2 separate regions of the Homo sapiens genome follow, and region 2 is linked to region 1. The links come from fine-mapping of genetic effects on gene expression. A gene starts in region 1. The other region holds a variant in brackets. All regions are shown on one strand. Distances are from middle to middle.

The links. PIP is the estimated chance that this variant, and not a neighbour inherited with it, causes the effect.
Region 2: its variant is the best candidate, but not a certain one, in a credible set for the expression of MMAA in prefrontal cortex (CommonMind, PIP 0.63).

The regions. Positions count from the first base shown.
Region 1 is chr4:145,617,196-145,622,584 of GRCh38, forward strand. It overlaps MMAA (metabolism of cobalamin associated A), which reads left to right and starts at 2,190. Exons shown (of 7, transcript NM_172250.3): 1 at 2,190-2,212. RefSeq lists silencers at 2,019-2,458, 2,489-2,558.
Region 2 is chr4:145,649,654-145,655,042 of GRCh38, forward strand. MMAA (metabolism of cobalamin associated A) reads left to right here. Exons shown (of 7, transcript NM_172250.3): 5 at 1,409-1,494; 6 at 4,341-4,490. Among named protein-coding and RNA genes, the nearest start is that of C4orf51, 28 kb to the right of the region's middle. The variant G/C (reference allele first, on the strand shown) is at 3,019.

The DNA of each region.
Region 1 (5,389 bases):
TATTCACCTGAAACTACCAACTTTTTTGTTGTTGTTGTTGTTTTGTTTTTTTGAGACTGGAGTCTCTGTCGCCAGGCTGGAGTGCAGTCGCGCAATCTCGGCTCACTGCAACCTCTGCCTCCCGGGTTCAAGCGATTCTCCTGCCTCAGCCTCCGGAGTAGCTAGGACTACAGGCACGTGCCACCACACCCAGCTCATTTTTGTATTTTTAGTAGACATAGGGTTTCACCATGTTGGCCAGGATGGTTTCGATCTCTTGACCTGGTGATCCACCCGCCTCGGCCTCCCAAAGTGCTGGGATTACAGGCGTGAACCACTGCGCCCAGCCCAGGTTCAAATTTTTTAAATCCTTAAGGCTATCTAGTTGACAGCTGTCTTTAATGTAGATCAGTCCTCCTGCCTTTTTTTATTGTCTTCCTTATTAACCTTATTGAAAAGTCCGAACAAATCACATTCAGAATTTATCTCAGTGTTTCCTCACAATCAGATTCAGGTTAAACATTTTTGGCAAGAGCTCTACAAAAGTGTATTTCCCATAGCCTCATAATGACAGGTTCATATTTTCGCCAGTATTGGTGATGCTAGCAATTTTTTTCCCATGAAGAATCTATTAACATTTTGCAAAACACTAATGTTCCATGGAAATGTGTTCCCTAAGCTGTACTGTTTAGAAAACTTCTGAATAAAAAAGTGACATGCATGAAAGTGTTTGAGTTTGTAGAACGAAAAGCAGGTAAGGATAAACTCAATTTTAAAATTAACAAACTTCTTCACTTCTAAGGTAGCACAAACTGAGCTTTCATCAAACGTAACCCTTACCGAAACAATTGTTCAGATGAGCAACGCCAAGTTTAAAGAAAGGAAGTAAACCGTCTCAAGAACTGTCAATCTGTTTGTGTTCGATAGGCTGAGATTTGAAAGGTTTGATTCTGTGTTCTTTCTACTAGATCCTCGGCTTCATTTAGACTTGTGCTTAATTTTCTGTCATTGGCTATTGAGTCTACAATCAATCTTTGGAGTAAAAGTGGTAGTCTTTTGGTCCAAATAGTAATAATGAAAATGGTGAGACCAGTAATTCATTTTTTATTATTCTGTATTCAGTAAGAATCAACCTGTATCAAATAGCTGAAAAGGCCTGAAGCCTCCCAAATGCATATCATTACACAAATTCTGTGTGAGGACTGACATCTTGGTTTCATATACTAATTATACTGCATGGGCCCCATTTATAACCATATCTACTCGTCATTTGATCCTGGCTACTGCCGATGGATGCTATCTTCATCACATTATAGCAAACATTTGGGTGATTAAGTTTTTCTCAAAAATTCTAGATTAGCATACAACGGCTTTACTACTTATATGTCATCTAAGACGTTTTTTAAGAATTAGTTACTACTACGCCCAACGCAGTGAGGTAGCAAATATTATGCCTGTTTATTTTCATCTCCATTTCAGGCTTGCGCGCCTTTCCCCCCTCGGGACTTCCCGAGGACACCCCTGCAGCAGTGAGCCCGAGTCCTGGCTTTGGCTGCATGTTAAGAAATATTAATCAAAATGAATGCGTGCCCTTTAAGAGAAAAAAACTGTGGGTCCTTCAGCCTTTAAAAACCATGCCGTGGTTTAAAAACTTAAAACTATATTTCGGCAGAACGCTGAGCATTTCTTCAAATCACTCTGAGAAGCTTGAGTGTCTTTAATTTCACCGGTCTGTCAAACGTAACGCGTCTCTCCCTCACCCCACATTTTAAGTTTCCAAGGAGCGGAAGAAGGGCCTCCGGGGGTCCCGGCCGCCGCAGGCTGCTGGGGGTGAGGACACGACTCGGCCTCCGTCCGACTCGAGGGTGTCGCGAAGGCCAGGAGGGAACGAAAGTTACCCTCGAACTTCGGAGGCGAAAGATTTCATGTGGATCTTAAAAAGGGCAAAACCTACCCCAAAGGCCGTAAACCGCCCTCCCCTCCCCCGCCAGAGAACTTCCCGGCGCAGAGCTTCCGCAGCCTGCTGCAGGCCGGGAGACCTTCACGCTCACTCGCTCTCCGCCACACGCCGGAACTGCGCGGCCACGTCCACGGGGACCCTGGCCATGCCCCGCACCGCCACCCAGCCCCAGGCGATCCCCGGGCCCCACGCGCCTGCAGTCGGCGCTGCGCCTGCGTGGGAGGATCCGGCGGAAGGGGCGGGGTCAGGTGGCACTTCCGTGGCTTCGGGCGGGTGAGTATGGGGAGTGCGCGCGGCGTCCAGGAGTCGGGACTGGGCTCCCGCCTACGGCCGCCCTCCCGCCGGGGGGCCAGCGCGGTCCTCCGGGGCGCCCCCTGGAGGATTTGGGGTGGGGGAAGGAAAAGGAGAGTATTATCGAATATTCTCCTAATATTGATGTTCGGGGTGCGGATATGTGTGGACAGGCAGGAGTCGGCAAATGGGTTCAAATGGAAGCTTTAACAAAGAAAGGCCCTGTACGTAAACAGTGTTTTAAAATTCTCATCTTGGTTAGGTTTCTCAGGTTATCTCTGAGCCACAGCAAGGCAGCTTTGTTAAGGTGGCTCTTCCCTTGTCGCTGCCAAACCCGGTAAATGGTTAACCTGAGGCCGCGTCAGAGAAAGCCACTATGACTCCTACCAAAGAGTGAAATTGAAACTCTTTTCTGGGAAATCAAATCCAGGATATAAAAGTTGGATTCAAACTAAAAGTTACAAACAGTATCTAGGTTCCGTCACATGGCGTGCCGGGCAGGGTCTAAATCTCTTTCAGCAGAGGGCATGCTGTCTTCATATGTATTTCTCATTAGAAAATGAAAGACGACCTAAACCAAAATAATATAAAAATTTTTTATTATCTGTCTTAAGAGTTGTACCCTAATCCATATGTTTAGAAAACATAAACTAATAAAACTTTTCCAACTTGGTAGAAAGCCAAAAGTTTCCAGAAAAACTGTGTGGATTATTCAGCATTTTGCTGTTGTCTACAATGTTCAGAATATTCTTTTACAATAATTTTGCACTAAATACCGGTTTGTGTTCAGGGTAACAAGAGGTTTTTAAAAAGTCAAAGACAAGGACAGGTTTTTTAAGGGCTGTATTCTATTAGGAGAGACAAAACAAGCATGAAAAGTTACATATCCATAAGAAATGTAAATCACCATTTGAGATATTTGAAGATGTCAAAAGAAAACCTTTATTTAGAATGGAAAGAGCTGGTGAATGCTCGAAACATTTACCATTTAGCTGATTGTTGCCATGTGGGAATGGGGGTCTCTCAAACGCAGATCCGATTTTCTCCAACACAGGCCAAAGATCTGTATTTTTACGTATTTTTTCTTGATTTTTAATGTTACTTGCAACCAATTTAGTTAACACACACCTTCTGTGGGTGGGCCAGGTGCAACTAGTTTGTGACCTCTGCAGATTTTCACCTTAGTACAGTCCTACACTTACACAATGGTTCAGTTAAAGATTTTTTGACTTTACAGTGGGTTTATCCAGACACAGACCCGATTGTAAGATGAAGACTCTTTGTATTCAGAAATAATTGGAATTAGAGGTCAGAAAAAGTCCTAGAGACTGGGATGGTCAGGAAAGATTTTAAGCTGGGTAGTATAGGAGAGATATCATAGAGGGGGAAGGATGTAAAAGATGAGTTAAATCTTGGGGTTGGGAGAGTTGGCAGGTTTGGAAGATAGTAAACTCTCCTTAGAGGAATTTTGGAAAGGCAAGCGCAAGAGGTGCTGCTGGCCTGGGGACTACACTTTGAGAACCACTGTCCTAGGGTACGGTGAACTTTTGGAGGAATTTGAGTAGGAGGCTAAGGAGATCACATTCACCTTTCAGAATGAGTCTTGCTGTGAAGTCTGAAAGGAGGACTGAGGAGGGAGAGAGAAAAGAGGAAAGTTTCTTAGAGGTGATTAGCACCTGCTTGATGCCAGGCCCTGTGCCAGGCTCTCTCATGCATACTCATTTATACTCACCATGATCCTGATACGTAGATCTTAATGTTTTCATTTTGTAAGTGAAGGAACTTTGAGAATATGAGAAATTACCCAGGTTCCATAGTTGGTCTCAGAGCTTCCTAGTTCAAGCCTGGATTTGAAATAGGGTGGTAGCAGTGGGAATCAAAACATTTAATGGTGATGGAATTTAGAAAAATAGAGACTTCTCAAGCACATTTAAGCCTAAAAGTAGGAATTGGGAAATCTGAATCTTACTGGAAAAGTGATAAAAAGTAAAGTGGACAGAGAACTTTAGAGAATCCCTTCATGAATTTGGTATTTGTTCTTTATTACTCTTAACTCATGATGACCTATTTAAAACCTATTTAAAAGTTGCTTATTTAAGAAGTCATCCTGCTCTACAAAAGTTTCCTGAAATTATTTGAAAAAGAGAAAATAAAGCCTTCTGTGGTTGGGGGGGGTGGAATATGGTAAACAGATTAATGGCATTTGACAGCTTATCTTCAAATCAAAAGTGATTAGCATTGAGAAATGGAAACACTTGGTACAACACTGCATTGCCTGTACGAATTGTGCTGTGCTGCAGACACTGATCTACTGTATTGATTTAGGAAATTCTGTATGCTTTTTCTTGCCAGAGTAGTTATTGAAATTGAGAATATTCATTGGATCAATTTCAAGATAAATATCCCAAGTCAGACTGGCTGCTGCTGAGCAAATTTTTAATGAAGGAAAATATCCATATATTGAAATCAGTTTAAAAAGAAAGTCCTTAAAATATATTACTGTAAAATCTAGAAAAAAATGTACATTTTAGAAACATCAATTAACTGAGTAATCAGTGTAGTGGAGTTATTGACCCATGCAGAATTATGGTGTACATTCATTAATTCTGTGAGCAAATAATTGTGCTATAAATACAAAGATAACTGATATGGTTTGGCTGTGTCCCTACCCAAATCACATCTTGAATTGTAACTCCCACAATCCCCATGTGTCATGGGAGGAGCCTGGTGAGAGGTGATTGAATTATGGGGACAGGTCTTTCCTGTGCTGTTCTCATGATAGTGAATGAGTCTCATGGGATCTGATGGTTTTAAAAATGGGAGTTTCCCTACACAAGCTCTCTCTTTCCTTGCTGCCATCCATGTAAGACATGACTTGCTCCTCCTTGCCTTCAGCCATGATTGTGAGGCTTCCTCAGCCACATAGAACTGTAAGTCCATTAAACCCTTTTTCCTGTATAAATTACCCAGTCTCGGGTATGTCTTTATCAGCAGCCTGAAATCAGACTAATATACTAGATATGGCCTACTTTTGAGATATCTTACTGAATCTTGTAAAGCTGGGGAATTTCTCTTGTATTTTGATAGTGCTTAGCTTACAAATTGTAGGATGAAGCCATATTCTCGGGAATCATGAAAATTAGTTGAAACATTTTGATT
Region 2 (5,389 bases), 32 kb after region 1:
TCTGATACACTGATACTCCTAATAACATTGGAATAAGAAAATAGGGAAGAATAAATATTAAATAGGCAACTAGAAGTCCATCACACCGAGAAAGGGAGAGAGTTTCCAGAGTTTTGGTGGAAGTAGATTTTTTTTTGAGGTGGGGTATCACCATGTTGCCCAGGTGGGAGCACAGCAGTACAATCACAGCTCACTGCAGCCTCAACCTCCCAGGCTCAGGTTCAAGCTGTCCTTCCACCTCAGCTTCCCAAGTAGCTGGGACTACAGGTATACCACCATGCCCAGCTAATTTTTGTATTTTTTGTAGAGACAGGGTCTCACTACATCACCCGGGCTGGAAGACAGTTTTAAGTGGGGTGAGATGAACATGAAGTGAAGTGGAAGGAGTCAGCATAAATTACCTTTTTCCAGAAACGAGTATTTTAATAAAAGTGAGAAACGTGGTGATAGTTGGAGGAGTTTGTGAGTTTTTGTCTTGTTATTTTGTTGTTGTTGTTTTTGTTTTATGTGGCTTTAAGATGAGAAAGATTTGAGCACAATTTATGTATTGTGCCGGGGGGCAAGAGCCTGTAGATAAATGAGAGGTTAAAGATAATAATCAGCAAGGACCCAGAGGAAGTGGAAAGGAATGAGAGATTCCTTTTCAGTCAAATAGTTCTTATTACACTGAGACTGCAGAGGAGGCAGTAAGGCTGAGTTTGTATTTGTGTCTTGTTACCTGTGGAGTACGGGAGAGGGAGAAGCCTAGGAAGTTCTTGCCTTTATTTCCTCTGTGAAGTAGGTGCTGTAGTCCTCATCAAGCGGGGAGATTATGGGACAGTGAATGTTCATAATAGCTGCTGTGGGAAATGGAACGGAAGCCAACCGAGGGCATTTAGGGAGATTGCTTTTGCCAGGCCGTAAGGAAGATGTAGCAGAGGCTGCCTGTCGTGGCTCTTGTCCACAGAGTTGAGTGATTTCTCTCACGTGCCTATGGAGGAGAGAACACACATAGTTGGATTGATCCATACATAATTGGGCGTTTGCAGGCAAGTATGAGGACAAGAAGACAAAAAAGATGAAAGTATTTGTAGGCATGATTCAAGATTAGAGTCACAGTGTTCAAGCTGCTCGCTGATGAAAAGGAAGCCAAGAAAGAGCTGTGAGAGTGAGGAGAGGATGGAAGCCTTTAGGTTCTCCATTCAATCCAAGAACGGAGCGGGAGAGCTGGGAAGGATAACGGGTTTGCTTAGAGGGTAAGATATGACATTTAATACATTCTTCAGAAGTGAGATGTTTAAAGGAGTGACCAGGTTGACTGTGTGACCATGAGTATGAGTAAATGAAGTAGAATGGAAATGGTCAATGTAGTTGAGAAAGTCAAATAATGGTGAGTATTTTAGGATATAGTTGTGATTTACAATTTCAGGTGTGGGTCAGTCGGAGTTTGCTGTTGCTGACATGGTTGACATGTTTGTTTTACTACTGCCACCAGCAGGAGGAGATGAGCTGCAGGTAATTATTTTTATTTTTTCCCCCAAAAATATAAAATGTATATCTCTGAAAATAAAAATTTCCAATGTTGTGTTTTTGTAAACTAAGTTGATAATGGTTTAGAAAATGAAATATCATTCATGTTGGCTAAAATACCTGAATCAAAGGCAGATTCTCTATATTTTTTCCTAACTTACAGGAATAGAATATGTGTCCTTGAGAATGTAAAATTATGCAACATTAATTTTTCCATCTGTAACATGACTGAAATACATGGATCGCTCCAGCCAGTAGAGACCATTGTTGCATAGATGTTGTTAGTACGTTGATTCAAAAGTTCTGGGGAGAGTGGGATCCCACTATCATAGTTTATATGTTGTACAATGAGATTCTTACTCTCCTCTGCACCGCAGTTCTGGCACAACTACCTAAAGTTAGTGCAGACTTTATAGGGTGAGGGCAGAGTCCTCCACAAGCCTCCTCTCACTGCAGACACTACTAGCTGCAAGCTCCAGGGTTCCCAGGCCACCCATACCTCTGACCAACGGGCTATAAATTTGAGGGTTCCCATTATCCCTTAGGTTTAGTAATTCACTAGAACAGTGGTCCCCAACCTTTTTGGCATCAGGAACTGGTTTCATGGAAGACAGTTTTCCACAGACTGGGGGTAAGGGGGGATGGTTTCAGGATGAAACTGTTCCACCTCAGATCATCAGGCATCAATTAGATTATCATAAGGAGTGCACAACCTAGATGCCTAGCATGCATAGTTGACAATAGAGTTTGTGCTCCTATGAGAATCAAATGTTGTTGCTGATCTAACGGGACAGAGCTTAGGCAGTAATGCTCGCCCCCCTGCTGCCCCCCTGCTGTGAGGCCCAGTTCCTCCGTGGCCTGGGGGTTGGGGACCCTTGCACTAGAGTGACTCAGAGAACTCAGGAAAGCACTATATTACAATTGCAGCGTGCTTATAAAGGAGACAAATCAGGACCATCCAAATGAAGACACACATAAGAAGCCTGGGAGGGCCGAAATGCAAAGCTTCTGTGTCCTCAAGACACATTTCTCTCCTGGCATATTGATGTGTATCACCAACCAGAAGGCTCCCCTGAGCTTTAGTGTCCCAAGTTTTTCTTGGGGTTTCATTATGTAGGCATGATTGACTGAATAATTGAAGTTGATCTCTAGCCCCTGTCCCCTCCCTGGAAGTTGGGTTGATATCACATGGCATAAAACCCCAACCCTCTAATCACATGATAAGTCTTTCTGCCATGGTCAGTCTCCCATCCTGAGTGATCTCATTGCATAAACTCAGGTATAGGCCGGGCGCAGTGGCTCACGCATGTAATCCCAGCACTTTGGGAGGCCGAGGTGGGCGGATCACGAGGTCAGGAGATTGAGACCATCCTGGCTAACATGGTGAAACCCCGTCTCTACTAAAAATACAAAAAAAATTAGCCGGGCATGGTGGCAGGCGCCTGTAGTCCCAGCTACTTGGGAGGCTGAGGCAGGAGAATGGCTTGAACCCGGGAGGCAGAGTTTGCA[G/C]TGAGCCAAGATCGCACCACTGCACTCCAGCCTAGGTGACAGAGTGAGACTCTGTCTCAAAACAACAACAACAACAAAAAAACCCAGGTATAGCCCCAGGCACCTCCCATGAATAACAGACACTCCTGTTACTCAGGAAATTCTGGGAATTTAGAACTTAAAAGATTACCTCCCAGAAACCCAAAAACCAGACAAATTTTTTCCTTTTTTTTTTCAGAGACAGGGTCTCACTCTGTTTCCCAGGCTGGAGTGCAGTGGCATGATCATAGCTCACTGTAACCTTGAACTCCTGGGCTCAAGCTACCCTCCTGCCTCAGCCTCCCAGGTAGCTGGGACTACAGCCATGTGCAACCACTCTCGGCTAATTTTTTAATTTTTTTTTCTACAGATGAAGTCTTGCTTTGTTGCCCGAGTTGGTCTTGAACTCTTGACCTCAGGCAATCCTTCTGCCTTAGCCTCCTTAAGTGCTGGGATTACTGGTGTGAGCCACCACACCTAGCCCAGACAAATTATTTGTTATACAATGCTTCTGTTTCAATTTTATAATTCTAAAACATAGTGATTGCAGACTATCGCTGCTTATTTAGAAACATTAACTATTAGTATTTCATAATTGAATGTTTTGTTTAAAAATATTTGAAAAGAAATTTTAATCTTATGTAGAAAAATCTGTATTTACTAAATAAGGTTTGGCTTTTGGATTTCATCCTTTATTTCTAATATTTTTATGTGACATAATTTGAATTAAGAGATTGAGGTTTGTCCACGCAAAGCTGAAATAAGAAAAATACAAAGTATAAAAATAAATAATAATAAAAAAAGAGATTGACATATTTTTAGGCATCAGGTTCTTTTTCCTCAAATGCAAATTGAAAATAAAATGCTATATACATTTAAGGAAAATTTCAAAGACTTTTTTCTGGAAATGCAGATGTTAAGGATAGGTGTTTTCTTTTTAAGCACCTTAATGATGAATGGTTTTGCATCCTGCAGTGTTAGCTCAGGAGAAGCACATTCCATCACGAGATAATGTGAACTGTCCTGCCACTCAATCATGTTGTGACTTGATGTATTTACCCTAATTCTGAATGTATTTCAACATGTTAGTCTCTAAATTTGGAAGAGATATTACAGATGACTTCTATAATTCCAATAGCCAATGCTTTTGAGTAATTTCTGTCAAGTAATGGTGATTCTTGGCATCCAGGGCTTAGGAGGATATGGATGAAAAGTTAATGAAATGTATGACTTTCAAAATCTGAGCATTGACTAGTTTTCCCATTTTTATGTTGGTTGTCATTAAATGTTTCTGATCTCTTTAGGGTATCAAAAGGGGTATAATCGAGATGGCAGATCTGGTAGCTGTAACTAAATCTGATGGAGACTTGATTGTGCCAGCTCGAAGGATACAAGCGGAATATGTGAGTGCACTGAAATTACTCCGCAAACGTTCACAAGTCTGGAAACCAAAGGTAAGCTTGCTTGCATTCTGTATCTTTCACTCTGAATGGATTGTGTACATTAGAAGACAGGATATAAGTCCCAAACTAGACATATAATCAATCTTGCTTCTATGTGAAGATGATAGTTTTAAAAATCATGACAAAGACGGAGTGTGTAGTCATGATTTTAAATATAATCCTTTAACCACTAGATGTCAAAAACTAGATCAGAGATGATAGATGTGATTGTAATACTTGATTTGAGCCATTTGGAAGTGATAGCAAATCCATTCTGAAAGGAACCATCCTTATTAAGATTATGGAGCAGTTAATGATTTGATTATCTATATTGGAATTTGATTCCCATTATGTTTGTTGGGTGCCATTTTCAGTAAGGAAAAAATTTTAATCCTGTAATAAGTGATGCAGTAATATTGATGTGGTCATCTTTATCTGTAGACAGACACTATGTTATTAAAGAATAAGCTGTAATCATTATAATGAGGACAATGATGACTTATCTTACTGTCATATCCCAGTTTTTCCCAATCATGTTGTCTGCATTGAGTCTGGATTCACCTCATATATACATGCAGATGTCAGATACCCAGCTCTTCCACTTGCTAAATCAGGCAAATTTGGCAGAGAGAATTAGGCTATTTCTCAACCTAGCTTCATTTTCTGGCACTCAGTCCTCAGGGGAACCTACCTGGCATTGCCCTTGTCACAAGTCCTCTATGATGCCCCTGACCATCTGAGCAATTAAAATAAAATAAATTAAATTAAAATAAATCTCTGGGCTTAAAATTTGACCTTGAATCAGTGTTTTATTTCTGCTATGCACTTAGTAATCCTAGGTATATTACCTCAGAATATATATTGGTATATTTACTTTGACACAGCAATAAAATCTCACTCTTGTCAATTGC